Linked DNA regions of Homo sapiens: all the other regions are linked to region 2. Evidence: fine-mapped expression QTL. A gene starts in region 2. Each other region holds a variant in brackets. All regions are shown on one strand. Distances are from middle to middle.

Region 1 (10,408 bases), 710 kb before region 2:
GAAATTTGTAGATTAGAGACTGGACATGGTAAAAGGAGAAAAGTTATCATTTTTAGAATAATCTGAGAATGTTTCTTGGGAAATAAATGGGGTAGAGGCCTGGAACAGAGAGGATGTTACTTGACTGAAAATGAGGTATATTGTAAAGAGTTTCGGTTTGGGAGTCAGGTCTATTAATTAAATGAGCCTCATTTTCTTCATACCCACCTCAAAAAGTTAGTGCGAAGCACATAGTAGCTGCTTACTCAGTGTTTTTATTTTTACCTCCCGTAATGGTTTGAGGATTCTTTGATTGCAAGGAAGAAAAAGCCAATTTAATTAGCCTACTTAAAAAAAAAGCATTTGTCATACAGTGCTGCTGAAGTCCATTGCATGATTCCAATTCAGCGTTTTGGGAACCAGAAAGTCTTCAGGCAGTTACTCTTCCAGTTTTTCTCTGGAAGCACATGGTCTTATGTCTCTGCTACTCACGCAGGTCTGTTCCAGTTTCTTTCAGATTGGCCTTCTCTTTAAAGCTCTTGGTTTCCACTTCCCCAAAACTTTGATTTGCATGAGACTTTGGTTTGCCATGATGCCAACATCAGACTCACTGACTATGCAACATGGTTCTCAGCAAACATCTCCAAGTCTCAGTTATGTTTCTAGAGAGAGAATCCAATTGGTCAGGTTTCTGCTTCTAGCACAGTTGGCTGGAGAGTGAGGAAAGATAGGAATGGGAAAAATGGATGAGGAAGAGACTTAGATTTGTCTCACAGTTTGCAGGGCTGCTCCTTTTAAACTGGCCATGCCAACATATTTAACAAAAGGAGAGTGGACAGGGAGGAAGTGATGGATACCTCAGGTGTGCTTTAACATCCTGCAATTTGAGTTCTTCCTCTGGCATTGCATTGAACTTGCTCTCAGCTTGGTAATGTTCTAACCAGATCTAACCAGTAGTCTCTTTACAGGACAGATTCTCCTGGGTGTGGGAGTTCAGGCAAATTACTGAAATGCTTGATGACTCAGTTTTCCTATGCGTAGAATGGGCATAATAGCACCTTCTGTGGTGAGAATTATGAATTCATGTATGTAAAGCAATTAAACAGTGTCTGGCATATGGCAGGCACAATGCAAGGGTACGGTATTAGTATTTGTTGAGAGCATACCGTGTGGCAGGTACTGTGATACAGGCTTCTGGTCGTGTTCAGAGAGGAAGGAATTTCTGCCCTCAAGAAGTCTAGAAGTCCAGTGCTGACCACTCATGCTTAAAACCATTTCTTGACTTCAGTGACACTAAATTCTTCTAAATCTCTACCTCACCTACCTTTCTGACTGCCATTTATTTGTGGTTCCTTTTATGCCGGTCCTGGAACCCTTTATCATGGTTGTCTTCATAGATGCTCTCTTGAATTTCTGTTCTTTCCCAGTCGCTGAGACCAGCTTTCAGGTTCTCTATATGTGGATTATTCTTAGAGTAACATCTCCATCTCTGACCCCAAGTAAATCTCTTAATTTTTAGTTCTTTTTTTGGGTATTATTATTTATATAATTTATATGTTTTGAGACATGGTCTTGCTCTGTCACCCAGGCTAGGGTGCAGTGGCGCAATCTTGGCTCACTGCAACCTCCTCCTCCCAGGGCTCAAGCGATTCTCCCTTCTCAGCTTCCCGAGTAGCTGGAACCACAGGTGTGTGCTACCACGCCTAGCTAATTTTTATATTTTTTTAGAGGTGGGGTTTCACCGTGTTGGCCAGGCTGGTCTCAAACTCCTGGGCTCAAGCCGTCCACCTGCCTTGGCCTCCCAATGTGCTGGGATTACAGGTATGCGCCCACTGTACCTAGCCTCTTGGATATTCCTATGTTGATATAAAATACTGTCTTCCAGTTACCTTCTAATTTGCAAAGCCTTCTGATTTACCTTCTGATTTGCAAAGAAAAAAATTTTCTTTCAGCATCCCAGGCTTAAAACCTTAAAGTTATTTTTCACATTCTTCTTTTTTTATGCTGTAATATACCCTGTTAGTTAATAGGTTCTGTGTGGGCTTTTGGGTGCTTCCTATGACTGGCCCATCTGCAAAGTAGATCTGTTGACTTATTTCGGCTACTGGCAGCTTAGGATAGATCCTTATATCTGTAAGAGCTACTTAAATGCCTTTTCAGCAATATACTCTTAGAGTCATGGCGTCATAGATGTCACTGATAAAAAGAAATGTGTTCCTGGGTTAAAATTCTGAACATATTTTCTGTTAGAAATAGTCTTGTGGATAGGGCTACGTACAAGATTAAGAATGTTACTCCATTTTCTAGGGAGCATATTCATGTTGAAAGCACAATCTCAAGATTTTAGTTTTTTGTTGTTGCATTTTTTTGTAGGTATTCAATTACATAGCATTTTAATTATAGCATATCATCCTTATAATATTGCCATACACATATACAAAGTTTTATTATAAATCAGTTGTTGAAAATATTTTTGAAAGTCAAATATATTACAGATGCACACTCAATAGTGAAACTAAGATAATCATTTGAGGGCATATATCCTTTACAGTGATTTCTTAAAACTGTATTCAAATGTAGGTCTAATGAGTTTTTTATTATGAAAATGTTAACTGTTTTATCCTCCTGCCTTCATCTGATTATTCTAATTAACTTCTAACAATGGACCGTTGCATGTTTAAAAGTTGTGTTTATTGTTGCTGAATAAGTAGTTTTGAAGTCAGTAGCCATTCACACTTAGTACTTTGTCAACTAGACCCATGTTATTCCTTTCAATACCAGTGGCTAGTTGGGCTCAAACATACCTTATAAGTAGATCTCAATCTGGAATGCAGTTGAAAAATCAATAATTTTTCTCTGTGACTGTTTGGGAAAACAAAAGTGACAGAACAAATATTCTTGGATTAATTTTGTAAAAAGTCATTAGGTAAGTGGCCCTATTTTCTATTTGGTGATGTTGCTTTTGCCACCAAATGCCTGTCTGCATTCACGTCATTGATGAAATTTCTCTTCACCGTACAGCTCGTTCACTTCAGTAAATCTATAGTTGCTTATTATGAGTAAGGCCTTTGGGGAATGCAGAGATGAGTAAGGCATGGCGATGGAATGAAATTCACTGTTGTATCCCAATCACTGTTACTTAGACGCTTGGTGAATGTATGTGTTGAACGTTGGTAGTACTTACAGTCCAGTGCAGGGCATAGACATGTAGACATTTAACTGTTACATAAGGCACTGTAGTCTAAAGTGCTAAAATAGGGTAAGTGGTGATTTTGCTCCCCAAGGAAATGTTTGGTAATATTTGGAGACAGTTTTGGTTACTGCAACTGAGTGCTACTGGCATCTAGTGGGTAGAGGCCAAGGAAGCTGCTAAGTGTCCTACCATGCATACACAGCCTCCTACAACAAAGACTTATCTGACCCAAAATGTTAGTAATGCTGAGATTGAGAAACTCTGTAGCGGTAAGAACATATATATTGTGAATGCAGGAATGAGGTTGAGGATTAAAAAGGAAAAAGGCAGAAACTATAAAGAAGCAAATATCTTAATAGATATTAAGACATACTAAAATCATTTTATACGATTGACTGTTGTTTTGAAAAACAAAATAGTATCTGATAGCTGTAGTAGTTTTAGATTTTGTAAGTCAAATAACAGGTCTGTACCCAAGAAAGGAACTTAGCTTCCTTATTTGCAAAAAGGGGGATAACATCACTTTTATTCTGCTGTTCACCTATTAGGTATTATTCTGTTTTATTTTTCTAGTGTTTGTGTTAGGGTTTACAAGATAACTTATTACAGGTTTTCTTCAAATAACATCACTTCATGTTTAATGTAGAAATCTATGACAGTCTTTTTTTGTCTCCATCTCCCCTGCCACATTTTTTATCCTATTTTGTCATACATTTTATCAATATGTCTGTCTTAAACCCTCTAATTAATTGTTACTATTTTTAAACAGTTATATTTTAACTGTTTAAAAGGGATTGAAAAATGAAGAATAACTTCTGTTACCCTCATATTTACCATTTCAGATGTTCTTTATTCCTTCGTGTAAGATTCAGATTTCCATCTGGTATTGTTTTACTTTGCCTGAAGAATTTCTTTCCATAGTTACTCTAGTGGTGGTCAACTGGTGGTGAATTTTCACGGCCCTTATTCATGTGAATAAATTTATTTTGCCTTAATTTTTGAAATACATTTTCATTGAGTATATCTGGGTTGATGCTTTTTTTTTTTTCTTCTTCTTAGTACTTTGAAGATAGTGCTCCATTGTCTTGTTTTCCGGTTCATATAGATGTGAAGTCTGTTGTCCTTGGTTCCTCTGTATATAATGTGTACTTTTTTTCTGGTCAATTAATATTTTTTCTTTATCACTGGTTTTCAGCCATTTGGTTATGATTTGCCTTGGCTTTCTTTATGTTTATTCTTAGGGTTTGCTGAGCTTCCTTGGTACTGTCAGTTTACGGTTTTCATCAAATTTGGGAAGTTCTCTGCTATTTTGTCTTCAAATTTTTTTTTCTTCTGCACCCACTTCCCCAGTGCACGCACGTGCACACCCACACACACACACACACACTCTCTCTCTCTCACTCACTCACTCGCTTACTCACTATGTCTCTTCGTGGAACTCCAGTTATTCACCTTTTATGGTGCTTAAAAAGTCACTTACACTCTACGTTTGTTTTTAAGTTTTGTCTCTCCATGTTTCATTTTGGATAGCTTCTATTACATTGTCTACAAGTTCACTGAGCTTTTCTTCTCTAGTTTAATCTGTTAATTGTATCCAGTATGGTTTTCGTTTCAGTATATTTAATTTTCATCTCTAAAA[G/A]TTCAATTTTGGTGTCTTTTGTATCTTCTCCTTCTCTCCTTATGGTGATGTTTTCCTCTCACTTCTTGAGTATATGGAACATATTTGTACTATAGTTTTACAATCCTTTTCTGTTCCTGCCATCATCACTGTCATTTCTAGGTCTTCATTTATTGCCTTTTTTTCTCTTGGTTATGGTTCATATTTTTCTCTTCCTTTGCATGCTTGGTAATTTTTATTGTATGCCAGCCATTGAGTTTATACTGTTGCTTGCTTGATTTATTATATTACTGAAGTGTGTTGGATTTAGTTGGGGTGCACAGTTACTTGGAATCTGTTGGGTTGTTTCAGGGCTTGCTTTTAGAATTTATTAGTGTGGGTCCAGAACAGTTTTTAACGTAGTGCTGAATTATTGTCTCTACTAAGGCTGCTTCTACTAAGGCTGCTACTTCTTCTGAGGAGTCTATCATTACCTGATACATTACAAGGTTTTTCTATTCTGGTGGAATATATTATGGTTTATCTCTAGGGCTCTCACTTACTTTCAGCTCTCCCTCCAGCTTAATACCCTGTAAATTCTAGCCATCTTGGTCTCTCCAAACTGATCTGTGTTTAAAACTCAGTGAAACCACCAGACTGCTTGGCTTTCCTGTCCCTGTATTGTGACCTGGAAGTAGCTGGCAGCCAGTGTTTCCCTTCTCTCAGGGATCACAATCCCGTGTTCCCTGTTGTCTGATGTTTAAAACCAATGTTTCATATATATTCTGTCCTGTTTTCTTGTAGTTATATTCAACAGAATATTAATTTTTAACACTTGGCCATTTGGCATTTGGTCAAAATGTGTATTTGGAGTGTTTACTCTAAATGTGATCTCAGATACTATAAAGTAGAAATTATTGGAAACACAAATGTATTTTCACAAACTCATTAAATGTAGACATACTCATTTAAATATTTGAAGGCATACTTTGCTCTTTATTCTGTTTTATATTTTTCAGCCTACATCATGCTTTGAACTTTGTTCTTTAAATATGTTACTTTTTATTTATTAGTTCAGCAGATGTTTGAATGCCTACTATGTAAAAATACATAAAACACTTTTGTCCTCATGGAACTTACAACAGGAGGGAAGTATGCAAACAGTGGCACCAGAGGATTAAATTATAAACCACTTAGAGAGCACAAAGGAGGTGGTTACTATTTGGGCAAGGAGGGATAAAGGAGAGATATGAGCCAAGCCTATTTTAGGGAGGGAAGTTTTTGAACTGGTGCGTGAATAGTAAGTAGCAGTTCAGCTGGTGGAAGAGAGAGGGTAGATTTGAGAGAAGTTTAGGAGAATGACAAGTCAGGATTTGGCAATTTACTAGGCGAGGTAGTCTGTAGGAATTGAGGGGAAGACCAGTTTCCAGCTTGGCCTACTGGTTGGGTTTGGTTTAATGGCTCTTACTGAGATAGAGAATACAGGAGGAGATCGTTTAGGGAGAAAGTTTTATTTACCTTTTGAACATACAAATTTTGGAGTAACTGGGATATTTAGTTGGAAGTGTCTAATAGGAAATTAGATATACAGAACTGAAGAATAAATTAGGGAGTTATTTGCATAGTTAAAACCAGAGGTAAGGATAAAATGTCCTTGAAAAACTAAATAAAATGAGACAAGAGGATAAGGATGAAGACTAAGAAATATTAGTATTTGAGTAACAAGTTATGAAATAATTTAGGAAAGGAAACTTACATACAGAGAGACAAGTTTTTCTCAACCAGAAATTACATGTGGCAGTTGTTAAAAGTACAGATTCCTATGTTCCATGTAGACCTGTTGAATTTGGATCTTCTGGTGGGGGAGTTGTGTGTGTTAGAAATAAGCTGATGTGTACAGGTACTGAGGTTTGAGAACTAGTGCAGTAGGAAGAGAGTCAAGATATGGCAATATTGTTGACAGGCGCTTCACAGACTGGCATAGTTAATTCTCCTGATACAAAAAAGGTCAAGTAATAGGTGATGTCAACTTGAACATTTCTTAGGTCAGAGGAGATAAGGAAAGACTTGGAGAATATATATTTTTTAATTATAAAAGAATTTATGTTCATTCAGAAAAGTACAAAACTCAACATACATAGACACAAAATGAAACACCCATGATTGTATCTACCCAGATGAAACCAATGTCTGTACTCATCTAGTGTATGTCTTCTTTTATATTACATATATAGATACACACATGTAGTTATACAGATTTTTCACAAAATGGGATAATGCTAATATGCCAGAACCTGTCTTATTTTACTTAATGATCTACCATCTTCTCATATTGTAGATAGATGACATTTTATAAAATTTAAAAGTCCCACTTGCATGGGTGACCACTGGCATCAGTTTAGTGTACCTCCTTCAAGTCATTTCCTGTGGATGCACAAATATTTACATATGTGTGTCAGAGTTGTGTCTGTATATAATTTTTTCTTTCTTTTTTTTTTTTTTTTGAGACTCTGTGGCCCAGGTTGGAGTGCAGTGGTACAATCTTGGCTCACTGCAACCTCCGTCTCTTGGGTTCAAGCAATTCTTGTGCCTCAGCCTCCCGAGTGGCCGGGATTACAGGCATATACCACCACACCCAGCTAATTTTTGTATTTTTAGTAGAGTCTGGGTTTTGCCATGTTGCCCAGGCTGTTCTTGAACTCCTGGCCTCAAGTGATCTTCCTGCCTTGGCCTCCCAAAGTGCTGGGAGCCACTGTGCTAGGCCAGTCTTTTTTTTTTTTTTTTTTTTTTAAATTACAAGTGAGAGCATCCTATTAACACCATTCTGCAACTTGCTCTTTCACGCCAGTATGGATCACTCTAACTCATTATTTCCAATAGCTGAGTAATAATCATGTGAATTTATTTGAATTGATGAACTTCTAGATTATTTTCAGTTTTTTCATTTTATTTCAGTGAATAGTCTTTCACATATCTTTGTGAATTTTGTGCAAGTATATATGTAGGATAAATTTTAAGAAGTGAAATAGCAGGACTAAAGGATATGTGTATTTATTTAAAGTGCCCTATATCTCTGTTCTCTGTATTCTTTATAATTGTTTCTGTAATTGCTTTCATTTGTTTACTTTTGCATTCTGTGATTTTTCTTAAAATCTTCTTGGTTTTCCATTGTTTTTAGCAATGTCTGTTCTGCTTTTTTGTTATTTCTAAGGGGATTTCATTTGTTTAGTGATAGTTTTCTGTGTGTTTCCTGAGCTATAGTGGTTCACTTCGTAGTTGTTTGCCTTGTCTGCCTCTTTCTTGTCTCTCATCTGCTTTTTTCCAAGCCATGTAGGTTCACTTTAATTTCTTTGACTATAGATAACGCACTTAGTTATTCTTTGCTTAGGACTCTTGTTTCTTCATCCAGAATAGGGCACAAAGCAGTAAAGCACTAAATGAAAAGTTTATCATAATACAAATGTATTTTAGGTGAATATACTGTATTTTTGTTCTTCTTGTGAAATCTGTCAAAAACGATGTGCTCTCTAATTATATAAGATGCTAAAGAAATCCTGCTCTAGTAGCTGTTATCCTTTCTTCCCCCATCAATCTTTGCATCATTTCCAAAGATGATTTTTTTCTTTGCTTTACAAAAGTATGTCATATCATCTCATATTGGATTCACTTTTATGTTGCACAGATATTCTCTAATAGATTTCTTTCTTCCTGAGACAGTATTTTATTTATGTTTAAATGAAAAAGTGGTGGAGTAAGGCAGTAAGTTGTTTTTCTTCCATGAGTGAAACAGAGTGTAAATATAGAATTAAACTGTTTCTCTTTCATTAATTTCAAACAATGATTTGAATTCTGAGATAATGTGAGTCTCAGGGGCATGATTATATTTGTCTGGATTTTTTCTTTTTATGTATATTGTATGTTGTTTGTTTTTCAGTGTTCCTTCGCAGATCCCATACTGAATTCCATTTGCTTTATTATTCAATCTTGAATAAGGGTGTTTTATCTGGATCTGCTATTCAGGAAAATTGTGGGTAAAGTGAACTGGGGTAGCCAGCCCTGTCAAATCCCGGATGTTGTTTCAGAGCACTCCCACCTCTCCCTGCCCAACTTTGAAACTGTTTCTTCTACCTTAGGTGCTTGTTGCACCTGAGGGTGAGCAGCTCATTTAGATAGTTGGTCCCATTTATTTGATGGTGAAGTCTCCTGGGAGTTAATGTTTATCTTTGCTCAGTTGACTTTAGTCAGCAGCTGCAAAGGTAATTGTTGTTTCCTATCTCTTTTCCCTACTTCCCTTTTAGGCAAGGTTAGGAGCAGACTCAGAGAAAGTGATGTAAGGCGTGCCATTCCTTTGTCCTGCAGTATTGTTTTTAATGGCTGCCATGGCGTCATTGTGGGAATGAACCTAAGATCATTTAATTACTCTCTTGTTTCTGGCATCTAGATTGCTTCGTATTTCTATTGTGAGTTGTAATGAACCAGACTATAAAACCTTTATGCACTGTAGAGGAGTGGTGAAGAGCCCCAGTGCTGGAGTTAGAAAATTTGGACTTGAATCCCACCTGTGCCATTTATTTACTCTGTGGGCCTGGGCAAATTGCTAAGCTTCCTCTTGCCTCAGTTTTTCTCATCGTCAAACCGGGGTCCTATTCTGTAGTCTTAAGGACAACATGAGATGTTTACATAAACCTCTTAGCAAAACAGAACACTTGGTGCATTATGAGCCCTTGTTAATAAACTAGATGCTCTAGGATCATTATTTGCTTTGATGCATTCCCAAAAGCAGAAATGCTGAGTCAAAGAAGTATTTCCAGGGTTTTGACACGCATTACAAAACTGCCCTGCAGGTGCCACTTTACTTAGGAGCCTTCTTTGACAGTCTCTGGTTTCTTGGAACCCTTATGTTGGCTTCTATGTTTTATGTTACATTTGAGAAAAGCCCACTTGCCTCTGAGGCTTTCTGGCAGTTGAGGAGAACACTGTGGAGAAGAAAGGAGAGTGAAGTGGCCTGGGACAAATAAAAGGATTATCTTTTTGCTTTGGCCACTATACATTTTTATACTTAAACTTTGTTTTGATAATTTTTGGTCCACTTGATCATTTTGGTCCTTAGGTAAATATTTAAGTCTTCTTTTGCCTGTGTTTTATAGTTTTCAAAGTACCTCCCATAAATTATTTTTCATTTGAGTCTCACAGTAAACTTCTCTGGTAAATACGGTATCATATACATTGAGGAAAAAGTTCCAGAGACATTGCAGTTTACCCAGAGGAAACAAAGCTAATAAGAGGCAGCACAGGGAGACGCATGATCGTCTTCTGGATTCTGGGGTATCACCCTTTACCTTGTGCTGTTGGGAACTCCTTGTGTTAGGCTGAGCCTTTCTCATGCTGCTGCTTCAATTTCAGTAATTAATCAGATTTTATTGTTATAGAGACCACTAGGGCTTATCTTAGTTCAGAATAGAATACAATCATACTTCTTTGTCTAAAAATTAAAATGTAGAAATCTCTAAAGAAGTGTGTGTGTTTGTGCACTCACGCTATAGTCTTATCTGCATAGCAAAAGAATATACAATTTGAACTTCACTAAAATTTAGTTTTTTAAAAGTTCTGACGGTGGGGGGCTAGATTGAAGTTTGTTT
Region 2 (10,408 bases):
AAAAAACAACTTGCAGCCCCATCTCAGTTTCTGGGGAGAGGCGGGGGCTGGAGATTTAATCACCAATGGCCACTGATTTAATCAATTATGCCTAGGTAATAAAGCCTCAATAAAAGTTCTTGAACTATAAGGTTTGGGGGTCTTCCAGGTTGGCGAACACATCAAAGTATCTACCTAGAGTATGGAAACTCTTCACACCCCACCACCTACCCCTTCATCTCCCAAAAGATGCCTTACGCATCTCTTCCACTTGACTGAGTTGTATCCTTTATGATAAACCTGTAATCATAAATATAGTAATTTCTGCGAGTTTTGTGAGTCACTCTAATGAATTATCAAAACTGGGGAAGGGGAGATGCATGGGAACCCCCAACTTTGTAGTCTGGTGGGTAGACATACAGGTAGCCTGGAGACTCCATTTGCAGCTAGTGTCTGAAGTCTGAAGTGGGGGGCAGTTTTGTGGGACTGAGCCCTTAATTTGTGGGGTCCACACTAACTCTGAGTAGTTAGTGTTAGAATTGAACTGTGGGACACCTAGTTGGGGTCACAGTTAGTTGGTGTTAGAATGACATATTTGATGTCAGGAAAAAAAAAACCACACAACTCCTAATGATCCTGTAGACCAAAGCTCAAACGTCACCTCTAAGGAAAGATCTTCCTGCTCCCAAGACCAGCTGAGACCCCAGCTTTCCTTGCAAGCTTGTCCAGCCCAGGGCCCACAAGGTGCATGTAGCCCAGGTGGCTCAGGATGGCTTTGAATGTGGCCCAACACAAATTCATAAACTTTCTTAAAACATTGAGGTTTTTTTGCGATTTTTTTTTTAAGCTCATCCACTATGATTAGTGTTAGTGTATTTTGTGTGGGGCCAAGACGATTCTTCTTCCCATGTGGCCCCAGGAAGCCAAAAGATTGGATACCCCTGCTTTAAAGTATACATATTTGTTCACATATTAATAAATGTCTGTCCCATCAATTAGACAGTAAGCTTCATAAGGGCTTATTTTGTGTTGAATAGTTATTTGTTCCTAGTTTTTAATTAGTTCTTTTAAGCTAGAGATCCTCTCATTCCATGGTGGTTATGAGGATTGAAAGAGTTAGTATACATAGTGTGCATTTACATACTAGCTACTACGTAAGTGCTATTATTATTATTGCTCATGTTGAAGTCTCTACAATACTAATACGAAGTAGGCCACAAAAATGTTAAGATTAACATAATTTACATACAAATTCAGCTCAAGTTAACTGTAAAATAAAATTCCATATTATAGGTTCATTTTCAAAATATATTTTTATTTTCTTCAAACAGCATCAAGCTAAAGGACCAGGTATGGTTAGACAAGTACATGAATGTGAATTCAACCCTATATTACCAGCACAGGCAAGACCCCATTTCCCAGAATTGGATAAAACTAGGTAAATGCATGTCTTTGTCTTATATTTATCTAGAGGTGATATAAATAATGTAAAATATTTACAAACAAGCAGAATATTAAAAGGAAGGATAAAGGTTTACTTTGGATTAGAAGTTTGTGTAAGCTTTTTTCTCTTTTAATTTGTGTAGACAGCTTTGATATTTAAGGACAAGACAAAAATCACCAAGTAAAAATAATTGGGAAAGCCAGTATGAATTAGTAAATACTTATAATAACTTAAATCCAAATTCCATCAAGAACTCAATCTTGGCCAGGCGCGGTGGCTCACGCCTGTAATCCCAGCACTTTGGGAGGCCGAGGCAGGCAGATCACAAGGTCAGGAGTTTGAGACCGGCCTGGCCAATGTGGCGAAACCCCGTCTCTACTAAAAATACGAAAATTAGCCAGGCATGGTGGCATGTGCCTGTGGTACCAGCTGCTCAGGAGGCTGAGGCAGAGGAGTCGCTTGAACACGGGAGGCAGAGGTTGTGGTGAGCTGAGATTGCGCTGTTGCACTCCAGCCTGAGCGACAGAGCGAGACTCTGTCTCAAAAAAAAAAAAAAAGAACTCAATCTTGTCTGAGAGTCTATCAGAGGTACTCAGAATAATTTAATATATTGATAGCCACAGATTTTTACTAGTATACTTTCTTTCTATGCAAATAGGTGGTTTATTTATTTATTTATTTATTTATTTGAGACAGGGTCTCACTCTGTTGCCCAGGCTGGAGTACAGTGGTACAATCACAGCTCACTGTAGTCTTGGAGCTCCTGAGCTCAAGCTATCCTCCTGCCTCAGCCTCTTGAGTAGCTGGGACAGAGGTATGTGCCACCGTGCCCAGATAATTTAAATTTTTTTTTTTTTTTTTTTTTTTTTGGAGAGACAAGGGACTCCCTATGTTACTCCTGGACTAAAGCAATCCTCCCACATTGGCTTTCCAAAGTGCTGAGGTTACAGGCACAAGCCCCTGCGCCCGACCACAAGTAGGTGTTTTAAACCAGTGTTTTTTTTTAACAAGGCACAAACATTCGACTTAAGGGTGACAGCATAGTACTTTACCAGGAATAAAGTTATGTTTTACACATATACACGTGGAAAAATTAAAACCCTATGAAGTTGGTATTGTCTTATATTAAGTAATGAGGAAACTGAGGCATAAAGTAGCTAAGGATTTTGTTCAAAGAGCAAGTGATGGCATAATCAGAACTTGAACCCAGGTCTACCCAGCATCAGAGCCCATATTCCTAATCCCCACACTGGGGCTGCAGGAGGAAATTAATGGAAGGATTCCCACAAAACAAGACAAATCTTTTACCATATAAATAAATTCACATTATGAGTGGACAAATGAAACTGTACTATTAAAGCACTTTATCCTCTTTTTTCTTTTTTTTTTTTTTTTGCTTTTTGTTTTGTTTTGTTTTGTTTTTGAGACAGAGTCTCACTCTGTCGCCCAGGCTGGAGTGTAGTGGCGCGATCTCGGCTCACTGCAAGCTCTGCCTCCCGGGTTCACGCCATTCTCCTGCCTCAGCCTCCCAAGTAGCTGGGACTACAGGCGCCTGCCACCATGCCCAGCTAATTTTTTGTATTTTTAGTAGAGACGGGGTTTCACTGTGTTAGCCAGGATGGTCTCCATCTCCTGACCTCGTGATCCGCCCTCCTCGGCCTCCCAAAGTGCTGGGATTACAGGCGTGAGACACCATGCCCGGCCTCTTCATTTTTTTAAATCAGAAAGTGTTTCTAATTTTTATCCCCAAAATAAATAAAGCCTTCTTTATTTTGGGGCAGCGGGTAGGCAGCTAATTCTACTGAGATATTTGCCATTCATTTTCCTTGGTTTTCCAACTTCATTAAAGGAAACAAGTGAGAAAGTGAATCTAAGTAACTAATGGAGATGCAACAAAAATTCAAAGTCATCCCAACAGGATCTCAGACATCAAACCCCTAAAAGGGAATATATAATTCTGTACTTACTGCAACTGGTTCACATGAGGAAAAAAAAAAAAAAAAAGGAAGACTCTGTGAGAGATAACTAAACACTTCCTGGTATTTTTTTAATGGTTCATTTGAAAATCTTTTCAGGAATCGCAAAATAGTGTACAGTGAGCTCTTCAGGGTATTAAGGCCTGGATAACCCATCAGAAAGCTGCCTCTTTCTGAGCAATTTGATCTGGCAAGATTCCAGGGTAATTACAACCAAATAAGAAAACAGATGCAACAGTTAATACTTATGCGATGATATGAGCTTAGAAATAAATGGTTGTATCTAAATAAATGCTTTTTAACAGAAAAAAGTCATGCAAATCATGTTCATCGTTAACTATTCATGGACACGAGACCATATGTCTGTGACCTTTGTTACTGTTAAGTACTATAGCTTGTAGATACGTGGGTTACTTGAAAGTAATTGGCTGCTTCTACTGTGGCGAGACACTAATTATTCTGAGGAGGAAAGAAATGCAACAATCTCTAATTGATTTCCAGATTATCCACCCCATCTAAGGGTAAACCTAAGCTAAATAATAATATTAAAGGCCTGGTACTTTCCAAAAGCTAAGGGATGAAAGAAAATCTACTGTTTATCGGCCATAAGGTTATATACTGTTTCTTAGCAACCAGGGTTTGTCTTTCAGAGACTAGAAGTCGATGAAAAAGGAGAGACTAAAAATAAAACCATCTGGACAGTTCCAATTCACAGAGGCAGCACTTCAAAGGCAGTGATGTTGTGATAAACCATACTGTTGAGTTAAAGTTCATTCCATTGGCTAGAAAGAGAGGCTCATGACACTTGCTTAATAAATGTTTCCCGGATACTCACTGCAGTCCCTGAACCAAAGACCAGGAATAAAAGCTACCTATCTGTTCCTGCATAGAGCACATATCAACATCAGGGATGAGAGGTACTATGGTCACTCACCTCCTCACTCTCTCAGCTCCACTCCTCTGGTTGTAAGAGGCTAGTTTATCTGCGAGTCTTGCTGGGACGTAGGCTTGCTCCTACCTAGAGGCAGAATTTGAACCTTCTACCCCATATCACATTTCTTGTTGACCCTTACCTGTTAGTGTCTGATACAGTAATTCCGTTTAGGACACCAAGTTTTGTTTTTCTGTTTTGTTTTGTTTTGAGACAGTCTCGCTCTGTTGCCCAGGCTGGAGTGCAATGGCGCAATTTCCGCTCACTGCAACCTCCGCCTCCCGGGTTCAAGCGATTCTCCTACCTCAGCCTCCCAGGTAGCTGGGACTACAGGCACGTGCCATCACACCCAGCTTATTTTTTATTTTTAGTAAAGACTGGGTTTCACCATGTTGGCCAGGCTGGTTTCGAACTCCTGACCTCAGGTGATCTGCCTGCCTTGGCCTCCCAAAGTGCTGGGATAACAGGCTTGAGCCAACGCGCCTGGCCCAGCACCAAATTTTTAAAAACAGTAAGGGAAAAGTTATTTCCATACTGGTTGGAGTATGAGTTCTGGAGATACCTGGAAAATGACATCTTACTGGATGCCTAGGCAGTTCCGACACACCCATATCTTTCAATCCTGTAGCCAGTCACAAAAATCAGGAAAGTAGTATTCCTGGAAGGAACCGGGCTGGTTATTTACCAAAGGACTGCAAACTAGCCGACTCAATTTATAAGGTGCGGCATGGATACTTTCATTTAAGCAAATGAGCTTTCATTCAGTCAAAATCCCTGTTGTTGGGCCCCTGTGGTTTTAAACTCCAAGGACCAAGGTGCTTGTGAGTGAGTATGTTTGGGGCCCGGGCTCCCGCCCCGAAGCCAGGTTGTTAAAATACTCACCGCCTCTGGCCCGCGTGCACGACGCTCTCCCGCGAAGGGCCCTTAGGGGCTGCCTCCAAACCCTCTCTCTGGTCTTCCACGGGGCTCAGCTCCCCTTGCCGCCCAGAAGGGTCCTGGGGATCCCGGGTCGGGCGGGAGGCAGGGGAGGCGCCGAGCCCGGAGTTCACCACTCTATTGCGGGTGTTCATGGTTCACAGCCCGCGGGTCCCGGGCCGCCGTCGCTGCGGGAGGGATGCGGCTGGGACGCTTAGCGAGTCTCAAGATGGGATTCCAAAGTGCAGAGGCAGCGGTTTTAACAGCTGAGTTTCGGTTTCTCAGAATCAGCAGCAGACTGCGCCCGCCCCAGAGAACTTCCCCACGTATTCTCCACTGAGGCCCCGTCCGACCTTATCGCGGGTTAACAGCCCAGGATGTTGACTTGAGCTGGCTTGGTCGGCTACAGGTGAGACGGTTTAAAGTCTCACAATCACCTTAGAGGTTAATCAGAATAACTGGGATCAGCCACGGACACCTGGTGAGCGATTAGCCCGCAGAGTGACTACAATCCTGAAAGATACTTGAGAAACTGTTTAACAGGCAACTCTAATTTGAGGTTACCGCTGGATATTTGAGACTGTAAAAAATATATTAACCTTAAAATACCAGAGATTAGGTCAATAACTAAAATCATCTCAACAAAATGTCGCCTTTTATCAGTAATGACTGCTGTGTGGCTGTTACCAATGCACATACTTTCAAGTTAGAGGAAATGGAAACTGAAATCAAAAGAAAACAAAAACCTACAAAGCCGGAGAAGTAAGCTAAGGTAGACATGATTCTCCAGGCAGCCTTGCTAAGTAATTGACTAGACATTCGAGAACTATTAAAAATACCTGCTCTGTGCAGAACAGTGTGCAACGGTGATGTGGGGACATTTTAAAATATGGATGTGTAAGGCTCAGTTCCTGTAGGTTCAGGGGTGAGCTCTGGCATTCATATTTTTGAAAAGCTCCCAGATGATTCTGATGTGTGCCAGGGTTGGTCACCAGGGTCACAATGCCGTCTACACAAAGATGAGTGAAGGCTCTTCCCTCATGCTACCTGCATTCTAGGAGTATCCTAGTAGACAGGTAAACAAATGGGAATGCCACTTTGGGATAAATGAAATGACAGGCAGCTGTGGAGGCACAGAGAAACTGGGGATTAGCCCTCTGAGTAATTCAGGAACAGGGACATTTGAGAATGAGCCACCAAAGACATAGGAATTCACCAAGAAGAAGGAGATGCTATGGCAGAGGCTTGTCACTTAAAATGACATGGTGTGTACTTAATTCCAGGGGTTGTCATGTGGCTGGAGCACCCCAGTCCTAGGTCAGCAAGACAGTTAGGAGCTGGACTGTCTTCCTTATATTATTGGTGCTTAGAACAAAAAGACACATACAGGTTTGATAGCTAATGAAAGAATGAAATTGAAGGGTGGGCCAGGGTGGGACAGGAGAGGAGAAAATAATGACAAGGAACATGGTAGGAAAGTCAGTCAGGATTTCTATGCCATCCTAAGACATTAGGGTTTTGTAGAGTAGGCCAGAGTTTCACAAATTTCAGTAAGCATCAGAACCACTTGGAGGAGGGTGCGTTAAAACAGATTTATGGCCAGGCACGGTGGCTCACTCCTGTAATTCCAGTACTTTTGGAGGCCGAGGCAGGAGGATTACCTGGAGATCAGGAGTTGAAGACCAGCCTAGCCAACGTGGCGAAACCCCACCTCCACCTGGGCGACAGAGAGAGACTCCATCTCAAAAATATATATATATAGTTTCTGATTCAGGTCTGGGATGGGGCCCAAGGATTTGCATTTCTAACAAATTTCCAGGTGATACCAATGATGCCAGTCTCAGGATCACCCTTTGGGAACCACTGTTGTAGGCAATGTGGAAGGCACAGGAAGTTTTTCAATAGGGCAGTTACTCAATAATATCTGTTTTACAAAGTTAGCTTCTAACAATGTGAAAACGGAGATTGAAAGATGAAGAGACTGAAATCGGGAAGATAAATTCAGAGCCTAGTTACGTCTAGGTAAGAAATACAGATCTGAGCTAAGGCAACCCAGAAAGTGGGGAGCAAAATCAAGACATTTCACATGGGCCAGGCTCAGTTGCTCATGCCTGTAATCCCAGCACTTTTGGAGGCTGAGGCAGGAGGATCACCTGAGGCCAGGAGTTTAAGGCCAGCCTGGGCAGCATGGTAAGACCTCATCTCTACAAAACAAATAAATAAAACATAAAAGACATTTCACATGAGAGATTAGCATAGATAAAAACTAGATGAAAGAGAGAATTGAGTACTGGAAGGCAGCAGAGAGAAGGGGAGATGGCTTTTATAGTGCTTTGAGACCAGCTTTGCCACATACTGGCCACACAACCAAGGCCAAATCTCTTAATTCCTCAGAGATCCAGTTTCCTCCTCTGCCTCATGTGGGTATTGTGAGGAATAGAGATCATCCACATCAGTGGTTCTCAAATGGAGTTGATTTTTCCTCTAGCAGACATCTGGCAATGCCTGGACATATTTTTGATTGTGAAGCCTCAAAGTGGGTAGGTGCTGCTAGCATCTAGTGTGTAAAGGCCGGGGATGCTCCTAAACATCCTACAATGCACAGAATAGGCCCACATGACAAAGAGTTGTCCTGCCCCACGTGTCAACAGTGTTGAAGTTGAAAAATCCTGATCTTCACAGTATGCCTACCTTATAGCCCCAGTAATTTAATGGTTGCTGTCTTTATGGTGACTTTTAGCTTTGTGACTGGATACGAGGTAGAACCATTAACCTAGAGGAGGGACAAGCTTTGAGGGAAGTTCTAAAAGTCTGTTTAGGTGCTGTTGGGTGTAAGGTACCAGCGGGGTGAGAAACGCAGACCTAGAGATCAACAAAAAAGAGGAACAGCAGGGCCTTTCTGGAGGCCATCTTCCACATTGTTCTTTACTAGGAAAATACCCCTGGAACTCTTGTTTCAAAGGAGAAAATTATTTTGGTGGTTGGATGAAATTTAAAGTTTGAGGAAGGGAAAACCCACACTGGGGGAAAACTGATTCTCCTAAAGGAGCTAGTAATAGGGATGTTGGCCTCAAGAATATACTTAGTTAACCATATTTGTTTCACAACACAACCACATGTCACACCAAAGTTTCAAACCTGAGATTTCTCACTCCATTCACTTCTTGTTTTACCTGAGATTTCTCACTCCATTCACTTCTTGTTTTGCCACATTCTCAAAGTGTTTTAAAAAATGTGAATGTGAGGCTGGATGCGGTGGCTCACACCTGTAATCCCAGCACTTTGGGAGGCCGAGGCAGGCGGATCACGAGGTCAGGAGATCGAGACCATCCTGGCTAATACGGTGAAACCCTGTCTCTACTAAAAATACAAAAAATTAGCCGGGCGTGGTGGTGGGCGCCTGTAGTTCCAGCTATTCCGAAGGCTGAGGCAGGAGAATGGCGTGAACCCGGGAGGCGGAGCTTGCAGTGAGCCGAAATCATGCCACTGCACTCCGGCCTGGGTGACAGAGCGAGACTCCGTCTCAACAACAACAACAAAAAAAAGTGAATGTGATTTATTATGGCAACAGACATCTACAGGCTCCTTTTGGATGCCCGAGAATGGGCTACTTGTGTATCATCCATTCTTTCACCGTAGGTGTGTGCATTTGGGCGAAAATAAGGGCTGGCCTTTTACTGGAGTTGTTCTTGGGTGCGTTTTTCTATAGTAGTGGCTGGTGGAGAGAAGCAGAGGTGAGTGGGGAGGGTCCTGGGCCCCTATCCCTATTTAGCCAAGTACTTTAGCCCCTTATCTCTTCTACTCACTAGGCCACTGCCTAATTTTGTTTGAGGCAAGAATTCAATGGCTTTTAAAAGTTTGAAAAACCACCATACTAGACAATTACCTAGGAATATGTTTTAAGAGACATGAGAAAGAAGTGAAATCTAGTGGGATTGTTACCTTACCTGAAATTTGGCCAATTAGAGATTCATTTAGGAAATGTTTTTCTTTTCAAATGAAACTGCCTCTGGGAAATAATCATGTATTCGTTCCTTTTGGTAAATGAGTTTAATCTGAGCAAAAGACATTTTGGCTGGGGAAGAGGAGAACTGAGTGAAAAGAAAAAGGATTCCAAAAGTTGTGTAAAGAAAAACATAAAATGAGGCATTGTTGGGGAATGGAAATTCAGAAATACAATGAGCAATTTTAGCCAGCCCTATGAGCTTTAAGAGAGAAGATTAAATCAAAAAGAAACTTTACCAATTTATTTTACTGCAAACATGTCTAAGTGTGTCTTCTTTCAAGAAAATAAATGGGAATATATGTCTGATTTTTAAATTAATTGCCTTAGATTACTCCTGCATTAATATGTACAAATATAGAGAGAGATACATAAACTCTAAGACTTTTCTTGTCATAAAATGTGTAAATGAAAAAAATCTTAGTTTTTGAAAATTCTAAAAAGTCACATTTCCTTAAATTTGATTCTTCAGTGGAAAGTTAGATTAATCTAAGAGATTTAGGACAGCAGTTATCTAAAGGTTTTTTTTTTCTCTTCTAACAAAGGAGTTATGTAAAACTCTGAATATTTGGTATCTCCTCATTTTTAGTGTGTGTGTGTATGTATGTGTTTGAGCATACCTGTATTGTGACAACTCCATGTGAAATTCTTCAAATCCTACCATAGAATTGTGAAATGGTACAATTATGAGTCACCATAAGTTCGTACAGGAAATATTTTTTGAATGACAAGCATGTATCATTCTTTGCATCATACCATGGAGCTACAGTGGTAAGCAGACAGAATCTTGTTATTCCACCTTCATATTTAAGAGCATCTAACCACTTTATTCTAAACAAGGAGACAGAGGCTTAGAGAAGCCAAATGACTCACCAGCACTGCGCACAAACTAGTGGCATAGCTGGAACATAAATTTAAGTTGTCCGAGCCCCAAGTGTAGCTTTTCATATTTTGGAAGATGATTGTGACAAAATGTCTCTTTTGACAAAATTCAGAATTCGGCATGTTTTTTACTTATTATAATTATCCCAATGAGCAGCTGTGCATTACTTTCTAAAATCAAAATGACTATGCCAAAGTTTCTGAACCTGTCAGAATCAACATTAATAAAAACCTTAACACTCCAATATTTACCCCTATAATTACACGATCAAATGATC
Region 3 (10,408 bases), 100 kb before region 2:
AGCCTCCTAACAGATTGCTCTGCTTCTGGGCTTTCCTCCCTCAAATCTCTTTCTTGGGTTCACTCATGATTTATTTAAAATAAAAAGCTAAATCTAATCAGGTCCATGCCCTGCTTATAACCTTTTAAAAGTTCAAGCTACTTGATATGGCACCAAAAGCCATTCGTGTTAGGTTTTTTATCTCATTGCTTTGCATAGCTTCTATCTCATTTTTCCTACTCTCTCTCTCTCTCTCTCTCTCTCTCTCTGTGTGTGTGTGTGTGTGTGTGTGTGTGTCTAACTCATACTAAAGTTCTTTAGTGGCTGGTTTGTACGATATTGTAGTCTCCATGCCTAGCATAGTGCCTGGCCTATATTAGTTCCTTACTAAAGTTTGAATTGAACTGGGTTTTTGATATTGTTTTGAATTTGTATGTGTCTTTGATCTTAAGCTTTCATATGTCTGTGTCTTCTTCAACTGTAGAATGTGTTCCTTGGGGGGATAATCAGGGTTATTTACAAATGTTCTTGTTCTCTTCCTCCTTTGTACGTTGCAGAAAATTGTAGGATTTTCTTTCCCACACCTTTAAAATTAGGAATAGCCACATGATTTGTTCTGGCTAATAACATGTGAACAGAAGTAGCATGTGTCATTTCCTGGAGAAAGCATTTCCTGGAGATAGCACAGAATACTGCCACTATGTCCTCCTCTTGGTGTATGGAAAGCATAAGAACAGACAGAGCCTTTCTCAGTCCTTGACTAAGGTGAGCAGAGGCTTCTGCTGACCTGTGCATAAAGTGCAGCATGGGCAAGAAACTATTGCTAATCCAAGAAGAGGTGGGGGCTGCTTATTGTGGTCACCATAACTTTGCCTATTCCGACTGCTCCATTGCCTGAGGACAGGACCTGTACCACTTAACTTTGTGTCTCCATTGTGCCACATTTAAAACAGACTATAGACATATATTTAAATGTTGATTTCTGATTTTTCTTAATTCACAATGTCCAATTTCAAATATCCCTCTCCCATCAGTTTCTGTTCTCTCCATACTAAAGCACAATTTCTACTCATTTTAGCTCAACTATGGTTTCTAAAACAGAAATTTCTAATCAGTTCATAATCTGGTGCCAATCACTGGTGTAAGGTTTTGTAGGGAATGAAATGTCACCCCCGATGACTGACGACGATTCCTTCAGCTCAGCTGTGGTCAGTGTCCTCCAGGGACGGTGAGAAGGAATGTTCAGAGCACATGCCCTGCAGCTGAGCAGCAAAGCAAAGGGCTTGTAATAAATCAGCTTCCTAGGGGAGGTGTGTGTTGCAGTACAGCTGTCCCTGTAGCCTCTGTCCCAGCAGATGGCACAACATGGCAATAAATGTCATGAAAATGCTTCTCCCATTTGCCTTTATATAAACCCTTCACTTCTGAGCATGTAATTCTGTGAGCAGAAAAAAAATGATAATCCTCTGTGATGCTTTTTAAACTCTATTGTTAAACAAGGGAATATTTTTAAAGGGAGGGAGGAATTCCAAATCAGAGCCCCTTCCTTGAAGGAATGCCTAACATGTATTTATTCTCTATGCAATCCTCATGGTAACTGGAGAGGCATATTCTTTCTCCACATGTAAATTTTATTATACCTCACTCCGATATTATTTCATGCACATCAGCACGGAGCTAGTTTCTAGATGTGCTAGTCCACTGAGTTATTAATAAAAACAAAGAGCCCACAACCTTCTATTTTCTTCTACTTGCTAATAGTTTCAGAACAATTCCTTTTACTTCCTCTGGCAGCCACACTTCCAAACACATCCTCTCATAACTGGACAAACAAGTCCAGCTAATTACAACCTATCTGCTTAATATCCTGAAATTTAAAATTAAGATTGTAGGCACTGTTTTTATGATTACATGTTTTTAAAAATTAGTTTTTAGCCAGAGTTATCACAAAACTTTGAATTTTAACTTGAAATTTTTGGCTTTATAAATGTCAAGGGTTTTACTTTAAAATATGTCTACATTTACTATAACTACAATGTAATTTTTCTAAATATACTTTCTGAAAGACAACCGAATCTCCAAATTAAATATGTAGGCTTCTTATCTTGATTTTTAAAAAATCGACCTAAAGAAAAAATGCAATGTTTCCTTTGAACATAAAGTATTTAGGGACCACAAGAAATGTCTCTAGTGTGAAAACATACACAAAAAAACATACAAAAAATGTGAGTTCTTAGGCCTATCCTGTGAATGGAATAAGATCTCCTGACCTGTATTATCTACAACTGTTAGCAGCAGTGAATCTGTACTGGTTGCCCCAACCTCAATTCTTGCCTCCTCAGAAGAAATTCAACCAAGGGGCATAAGGCAGAGAGACTGAGACAAGTTTTAGAGCGGGAGTGAGAGTTTATTAAAAAGTATTAGAGGCCTGGCACGGTGGGTCACACCTGTAATCCCAGCACTTTGGGAGGCCAAGGCGGGCGGATCACCTGAGGTCAGAAATTCAAGACCAGCCTGACCAACATGGAGAAACCCCGTCTCTACTAAAAATACAAAATTAGCCGGGCATGGTGGCATATGCCTATAATCCCAGCTACTCGGGAGGCTGAGGCAGGAGAATCACTGGAACCCAGGAGGCAGAGGTTGAGTGAGCCGAGATCGTGCCGTTGCACTCCAGCCTGGGCAACAAGAATGAAACTCTGTGTTAAAAAAAAAAAAAAAATTAGAGCAGGAATGAAAGGAAGTCAAGTACACTTGGAAGAAGGCCAAGTGAGCAACTTGGGAGATTGGGTGCATGGTTTGGCCTTTGACTTGGGGTTTTATATGTTGGCAATCTTCTGGAGTCAATGATTCCCTTGGGGTGGGCTGTCTGCATGCGCAGTGGCCGGCCAGCACTTGGGAGGGGCCGCAAGCCCAGTGTGTTTACTGGAGTTGTGCATATACTTACTTGAGGCGTTCTTCCCTTACCAGTCGAATGTTCCTGTAAGGTCATGTATCAGTTAAACTCTGCCATTTTGCCCCTTAATGTACATGCTTGAGCTTTCTTGCCCAAATCCTGAGATCTTATCAGAAGCTGCTGATCACCAGTTTCAGGTGTTTCTATCTATTGGGAGACTGCCTTTCCCTGGCACTGGCTGCAACCAATTATTACTTTAGAGAGTCAGCTTAACAACTGGCTGGCCGGCTGGGTGCAGTGGCTCATGCCTGTAATCCCAGCACTTTGGGAGGCTGAGGCAGGCGGATCACCTGAGGTCAGGAGTTTGAGACCAGCCTGGCCAACGTGGCAAAACCCCGTCTCTACTAAAAATACAACAATTAGCTGGGCGTGGTGGCGGGTGGGAGACTGTAATCCCAGCTACTTGGGAGTTTGAGGCAGGAGAATCTCTTGAACCCGGGTAGCAGAGGTTGCAGTGAGCCGAGGTCATGCCACTGTACTCCAACCTGGGCAACAGAGTGAGACTCCATCTCAAAAAAAAAGAAAAACAACAAAAATAACTTGGCTGACCATCACCTGATGGTTGCCTGACATTCCTGGTAGTGGGGGCCTCTCTTGGCCTGCTCCTGTCTGCCTGACTATCTACTATAATATAACTAAGCCCAGTAGTAGGGGAAATCCTTTGTTTTGTTAAAATAGGCCACTGGGTAGAGGTTGTTGCTTTGTAGATTTTAGGATCTATCAACATAATACCAAGAAGAAACCACAAAGGAAAAAGTGGTAAATCCAAATACAAAAGTGTTTAGAAGTTTATTAAACATTTTATTACACACCTGTATTGCCTAAAGTTTCTATAACAAACATCTTACATTGGAACGATTTTCTTGTTTTTATTTTCTACAAAAAAAAAAGCGGGGGGACATTAAAATTAAGCATAGAAATGGTGGAACTTTGGGATTTCCTGTCCAGTCACCTGCGAGTCAGGTTTTATTCCAATTGATTCAACGTGGCAGATTAAATGTGAAAAGTAAAATGGTGGGCTCCTTTAGGCAGCAAGTCTTGCTTCTCTCCTGGTTACCTCTGCCTACATAGATATTTGGTTAAGCAAGATGTTTATACCCCCACACATATTCTAGATAGTTCTGGTCATGAAGTAAGTCACAATTTTCCATATCTGCACAATTTTTAAAAAATGGAACTACCCATCTGCACAAAATCTTTGGGAGTGCAGGGTAGGCCAGGCAGTGGAGGAGAAATTGACACCAACTTCCCTGAGAGCTTCCAAAGTAAGAAAGCATCCCTTTTTCCTACGTCAACTCCTGGTTGCATGCTGGAAAATGCAGCAAGTGAGGCACACCAAGCATAGACGCAAAAATCGGAACACAACTGTAAGGTAGCCAGGCTGGCAGGTGTAGGGCCGAAATGGCTGCACACCACCACACTAAAATGTCTGCTACAGCCGCACATTTACAATCAGTTTGGTGATATTTCCAACACAGGCTGGGGGATTGAGTTTCCCCCATATAAGGCAATGACAAGGATTTCAAATGGACCAAACATTTTATATTAGTGTCAACAGCACTAACACAGCTTCAGCTGGCGGAGGAGAGGGAAACCAAGAATATCCACATTATTTACTCCAGAGAAACTTCCTGACACCATCTGTTCTCTGTTACCCCCCACCCACCAATGTGGCCCTTTCCTAGTGCACCCTTGCCTAGCTCTGCGAACCCCTCAGTTATGTCTCTTGGCCCAAGAATTTCAAAACCCCATGTTTTCCTGAATAAAGAGATTCGGAAAGTTCATTTCAACAGAGTGACTGGTAACACAGAAGATCTCTTAATGCTGCAAAGTATTATTAGTTGTCCAGCTGCAAAGATGATTTGTTGTATTTACCTTTATTCTAGGATTGAATGTAATGCTTTTGCTATACAATGTGGTGGCTGGGGGACGGTGAGGCGGAGGGGACAGAGGGATTGAGCTAGATTACACAGCGTAGAAAATCAATGCTCTTACACTCTAGGGTCTGAGAACTGGTTCAGGGTCACAGAAGTGAATAAGAAAGCCAACTGAACTAGCAATAGGAAATAGGTTACACAGAGCAAAGAAAAAACAAGTTTCTGAAACATGTACAAACTACATATGATGTCTATATTTGTGTCTAGCTGATGTGTATACAAACATTGGCCTTTCTGGAGATAAACTGTCCCCCTCTGAAAATCAGGGTAACACTATTAGTAAGTCAAGACCAAAACAAGAGCCAACAGTAATGACAGTACTATATTTGATCTATACGGCCTGGAAAAGGGAATTAAAATGAGACCCTTCAAGAGAGAAAACCCCAATAACTTTTCATTAAAAATAAAAATGACCCATTTATACAGAAGGAGTTCAAAATTTATTTATAAATTTGTGTAAAAGAATATAAGACCTTTTTCTTTTGTACATATTTGTACCATAAAGAAAGTAGGGATTAAAATCTAAAAAGACCCCCAAAGCTTTCAAAACCTGATCTGAGAATTAGATAAGAATATGTCACTTAGAAAGACAAGCCTGTAGCACCCATAGCTCTGATTAACCTGAAAGCATCAAGTGACTCCCTCTTTTTCTACCCTACCAACATCACTCTAATTATACTTCCAATTAGAAAAATAATGTAGCATTTCCCTGGCAGTAGAG[A/T]TTAAATATGAGTTCAGGAATCAGCTCCTCCAAACATGCATAAATGAGGACAAGGAGAAGCCAGTCACTCCTGACTGCACGGTCAAGTGTGTGGGCAGTTGAAATTAAGGTAAAAACAGTGAGGCTGAACAAAATCACATTAAGAAAAAGCATCTCATGAGGCTTTTCGAGGTCAGTTGATGAAGGCCAGATAGGAGTCAATATTTTCTCATATACCCTGGAAGAAAAAGAAAACAAAAATTACTGCAAGCAGCAAAATAAAATTCAAAGCCTTTGTAGTCAAAAATGAAGTTCCTGCAAAGAACGCTCTTATGCATCAAGCTGAAATGACCATTTTTTAAAATTAACAACTTAAATGACCATTGAAACGATTTGATTTTCAAGTCACATTGCATTTGATTCACAAAATAGTCTTGGTCAATAAGGTAATGGCTTGTCAAGTGATGTCTTATTGGCTGTGTTCTTAGAGATAGACTAACAGAGGTGACAAATATACAGTTCGAAAATGTTGTCACCCACCTACACAGTTACAGCAAGGACAGGATGAACACATGTGGAACAGAGCAATTTAAATGGAAATGTCTCAAGTAGGGTTACGCTGTATTATACAGCAGAAAGGTGACTTCTAAGAGGACCTTGATGTAGGGAGATAGATTGGTGAGTCTCCACTCCTACCATGTGCAAAGGGTCAAGAAACCTCCATCAAGCCTTCTGCAGTGCTGGGCCACGCTACGTATGGAATACACACCATTGCTGTTTCTTCTAACACTTTGAGAAATTAAAATCTCAGGTTGCCTCATTGGTCATAGGAAATGCTTAACTGCCCCTGAAGACATAGGATTTAGAGTTTCCACAGCATCCCAAAGAGCCTCACCTATTGTATCAGAGGAAATATTATTTAAAGGGATGTTTTTAAGTGACCCACCTTAGGTGCCTCGAAAAAACTAATAGAGAACCCTAGAAAAATAAAAAAATATATTTTTTACATATAAAAGCAATTATTGAAGAATAAATGTATATGTTAAGAAATATGAGAAGACTGATTTAAATTAACAATGATTAAAAAATAAAAATCAATCCACCTAACATACACACTTATTGGGGGCCTACTGCTTAAGTGTCTATATGACATTTCAAGAAACCACTGCTTCTTTCCATGGCTTGGTTTTATCATAATTTCTGCCTTCCTCCTTGTTTACTCTGTCTCTGGCTTTTTACTGGTTCCGATATTTCCTCCAAGCCTCTGTGAATTGAGGCATAGCTTTCCTCTTTCATTCTTTGGAGAAGCTCAGTCCTCATCTATCAGTCTTTAAATGGTGACATATCCTTAATTTAATAGTAATTCAAATATATTGATATAATTTAAGTTGCTAATTCTATATATTAATTTTGTCCACTTGTTATTTGCAGAACATGTCCTAAATAAAAGTTTAATTTATGGCCTCTCCTCTTACTTTTGTATGATATTCTTTTATGAACAGATGTTTTAAAATTTAATGTAGATATAGTTATCTTTTTTGTTATTGTTGTTTATACCTTGGGTCTTACAAAATCCTTTCTCAGCTCTATTTTATAAACAGCCTCTTTTATTTTCTAAAATGTAAAAGTCTTCCTTCCTACTTATAAGCTTTAATCCAGTTAGAATTTTTTTATGAATTATGTCGGGACCTAATTTCATGTAAGTACTCAATTGTCCCCACAGCATTTGCCAGAGTCTGTTTCCCCCCAGTGATGTGCTCTGCCCCGTCTGTCATACAAAAAACTAAAAAATTCAGAAATGTTGGGTGTGCTGGGCCAACTGCATACCGCATTAAATACACAATTAAGTCCCCATATATACTTCTTTATCTTTAGGAGTGAATTGGTTACTCTCAGTTCTTTGCTTTGATTCCAATTTATGTGAATCTATAGCTTATTTGAGAGCTCATTCCTATCTATTAACAAGGTATAACTCTCCATTTATTTATTCCACAGCATCTTTCTACAAAATTTAAGAATTTTTTTTCTTTTCTTTTTTTTTTTTTTTTTTTGAGAAAGAGTCTCGCTCTGTCACCCAGGCTGGACTGTGGTGGCGCAATCCCTGCTCACCGCAAGCTCCGCCTCCCAGGTTCACGCCATTCTCCCGCCTCAGCCTCCCAAGTAGCTGGGACTACAGGAGCCCGCCACCACGCCCGGCTAATATTTTTGTGTTTTTAGTAGAGACGGGGTTTCATCTTGTTAGCCAGGATGGTCTCGATCTCCTGACCTCGTGATCCGCCCACCTCGGCCTCCCAATGTGGTGGGATTACAGGCGTGAGCTACCGCTCCCGGCTAATTTTAGAATTTTTTAAAAAGGGTCATTCATATTTTTGGTTGGATCTTTTTATTAGATTTTTTATTTATTCCTAATGTGTAGAAATGTAGTTTTTACATATTGATCTTATATCTACTAACAGTGCCAAGCCTTTTTTTCTTCTAATAATTTGAATGTAAATTCTTTTGGATTTTCTACGTAAATAATTGTATCATCTGTGATTTATAAAGGCTTTTTTTCCCCCTTTTCAATCCTTATATCTTAACGGAAATGTTTTTAATGTATTTTTATTATTATTATACAGTTTTGATCCCTTTATGAGGCAAAGAAATTTCCCTTCTATTCCTAGTTTCCTAGAAGATTTTACCACAAGTGAGTATTGTAATTTAGCAAATGCTTTTTCTGTACTAATTGAGATGATCGTATGGAGTTTCTTTTATAATTTATGAGGTGAATTATCTCAGTAGGTTTTTTGTTTTGTCTGCAATAAGCCAAGCTTGCAATTCTGGAACAAATTCTATCTCATCAGGATATGTTATGCTTTTTCATATTTATTCTGTCAAAATCTTGTGATTGTTTTGAATCTATGTTTATGAGTGATAGTCTATTTTTTTTCTATACGGTCTTTGTCTAATTTTAATTCAAAGTCATGTTTACCTGCTTAATCATTTTGGATAATACTTCCTTCTTTTTAATCAGAAAAACTTTCTAGACATTTGAAATAATCTGTTCCTTGAAAGTTTAATAGAATTTGGCTCTAATATGTATAGGCCTGGTCTTCGTTTAATGGGAAGACAGTAAGACATAGATGTTGATAGTGTTTGTATCATTTTGCATGCCCACCAATAATGTGTAAAGTACCCACTTCCCCACAGCCTTGCCAACAGAGTATATTGTCAATATTTTAGGAGGGTTTTTTTTGCCAAATAATTGATAAGAAATGGCATTTTGGTTTAATTCTTTTTGAAGTCTGCTTGGTTGTCTTTCATTATCTCCTATTTTTTCCTCATTATTTCAAATCCAATTTTTATTTCATCAAACGTTTTATACATCGTGATTTTAAATTCAGTATCTAATCATTTTAGCATGTGAAATCATCTGGCTCTAAGTCTTTCTATTGTGTTTGTGATGTTGAATCACAACCACTTGTTTCCTTGTGTGTGTGGTAAGTTCCAGTTATTGTTTTATGCCTGGGATACACCACTGAACACAACAATCCAATGGCCCCACCCTTGTAGAATGTGGAACATACATCACCACAGGGAGAGGCGAAGAGTAAACAGTCAACAAAACATACAAGGAAATTATGTTTTAAAAGTATGTTAGAAGTTGAAGAGTGCTATAGAAAAAGGGAGGGGAGCCTAGAAAGGGGACTGCAGGAGCCAGGGTGAGAGGACAGGCAGCAGCTTTAACTAGGATGCCAAGGTAATCTCACTGAGACCGTGGAATTCAAGAAAGTAAATGAAGGAGGACAAACCATATGGATATTTTGGAGAATAGTGTAGACAGAGCACCCAGTGCTCTCAGCAAGAAAGCTGGTGTGGCTAGAGAGAAATGAAGAAGGAGAGCAGCAGGAGAGCCAGAGGGCTAAGAAGGAGTCTGGATCATGCAGCACCTGGTAAGCTGCTGGAAGGACTTCGGCTTTTACTCCAAGTGATTTGGGGGTGGCGAAAGCCATTGGAGGGGTATGCAGAGTCAGAATCTGACTTCTGTCAGTCTTGTATCGAGAACAGACTGTAGGTAAGTAATTGTGGGAGTAAGGAAACCATCTAGGAGACTACTGCAAGCATCTGGATGAGCACTGAGAGAGGCTGGAAGCAGGATAATGATGATAAGGGTGGTGAGAAGCTGTTGGATTGGATGTATTGGGAAGGAAGAGTCAAGAGGATTTGTTGATGGCTAGCTGTGTGGGTGTGAGAGAGGGATTGCACCGTTATGGAAACAGGAAAATGTGCAGACAGAGCACTAGGGTAAAGGGGATCAAAGGTTAGGTTTTAGACATGTTAAGGCTGAAATGTCTATTACATATCTTGGATAAGTAGAGATGTGTTGGGTAGGCAACTGGGTACACAAGTCTGGAGTTTGGAGGAAGGGGTCTGGGCTGGAAATAGAAACTTGGGAGTCATGAACATATAGATAGTATCTAATTTCATAAGAATGAATGAGTATCTAATTTCATAAGAAAGAATGTATTAAGTGAACATCAGTTCAGAAAGTGGTCCAAGGTAGATCCCTGAGGCACTTCACTGTTGAAAGGACAGGCAGATGCAAGGAATTCAGCAAAGAGGGATGAAAACGGGTTATCACTGAGGTATATGAAAACCCAGGAGAGAGTACAGTGTCACAGAAGCTAAGTAAAGAAACAGTTTCAAAGAAGAGGGAGTGATTCACCATGACAAAGAATGGCGATCAGTCAAAAGAGGAAGATTGAGAAATAATCGTTGGATTTTGCAATGTGAACATTTTTAGTGACCATGAAAAGAACATTCTTTTTGATGGGTAGATTCTAAAACCTTGTAACA

Evidence for each region.
Region 1: its variant is fine-mapped to the expression of EPSTI1 in breast (GTEx, PIP 0.94).
Region 3: its variant is fine-mapped to the expression of EPSTI1 in whole blood (TOPMed, PIP above 0.99). The same link has a PIP of 0.9 or more in B cells.

Annotation. Positions count from the first base shown.
Region 1 is chr13:42,274,724-42,285,131 of GRCh38, forward strand. All of the region lies in intron 1 of AKAP11 (A-kinase anchoring protein 11), which reads left to right. Among named protein-coding and RNA genes, the nearest start is that of AKAP11, 7.8 kb to the left of the region's middle. RefSeq lists an enhancer at 9,329-9,830. The variant G/A (reference allele first, on the strand shown) is at 4,812.
Region 2 is chr13:42,986,766-42,997,173 of GRCh38, forward strand. EPSTI1 (epithelial stromal interaction 1) reads right to left here and starts at 5,476. Exons shown (of 11, transcript NM_033255.5): 1 at 5,213-5,476. The coding sequence starts at 5,400. RefSeq lists enhancers at 5,490-5,609, 5,870-6,109.
Region 3 is chr13:42,882,693-42,893,100 of GRCh38, forward strand. EPSTI1 (epithelial stromal interaction 1) reads right to left here. Exons shown (of 11, transcript NM_033255.5): 11 at 3,696-5,810. The coding sequence ends at 5,802. Among named protein-coding and RNA genes, the nearest start is that of LINC00428, 15 kb to the left of the region's middle. The variant A/T (reference allele first, on the strand shown) is at 5,594.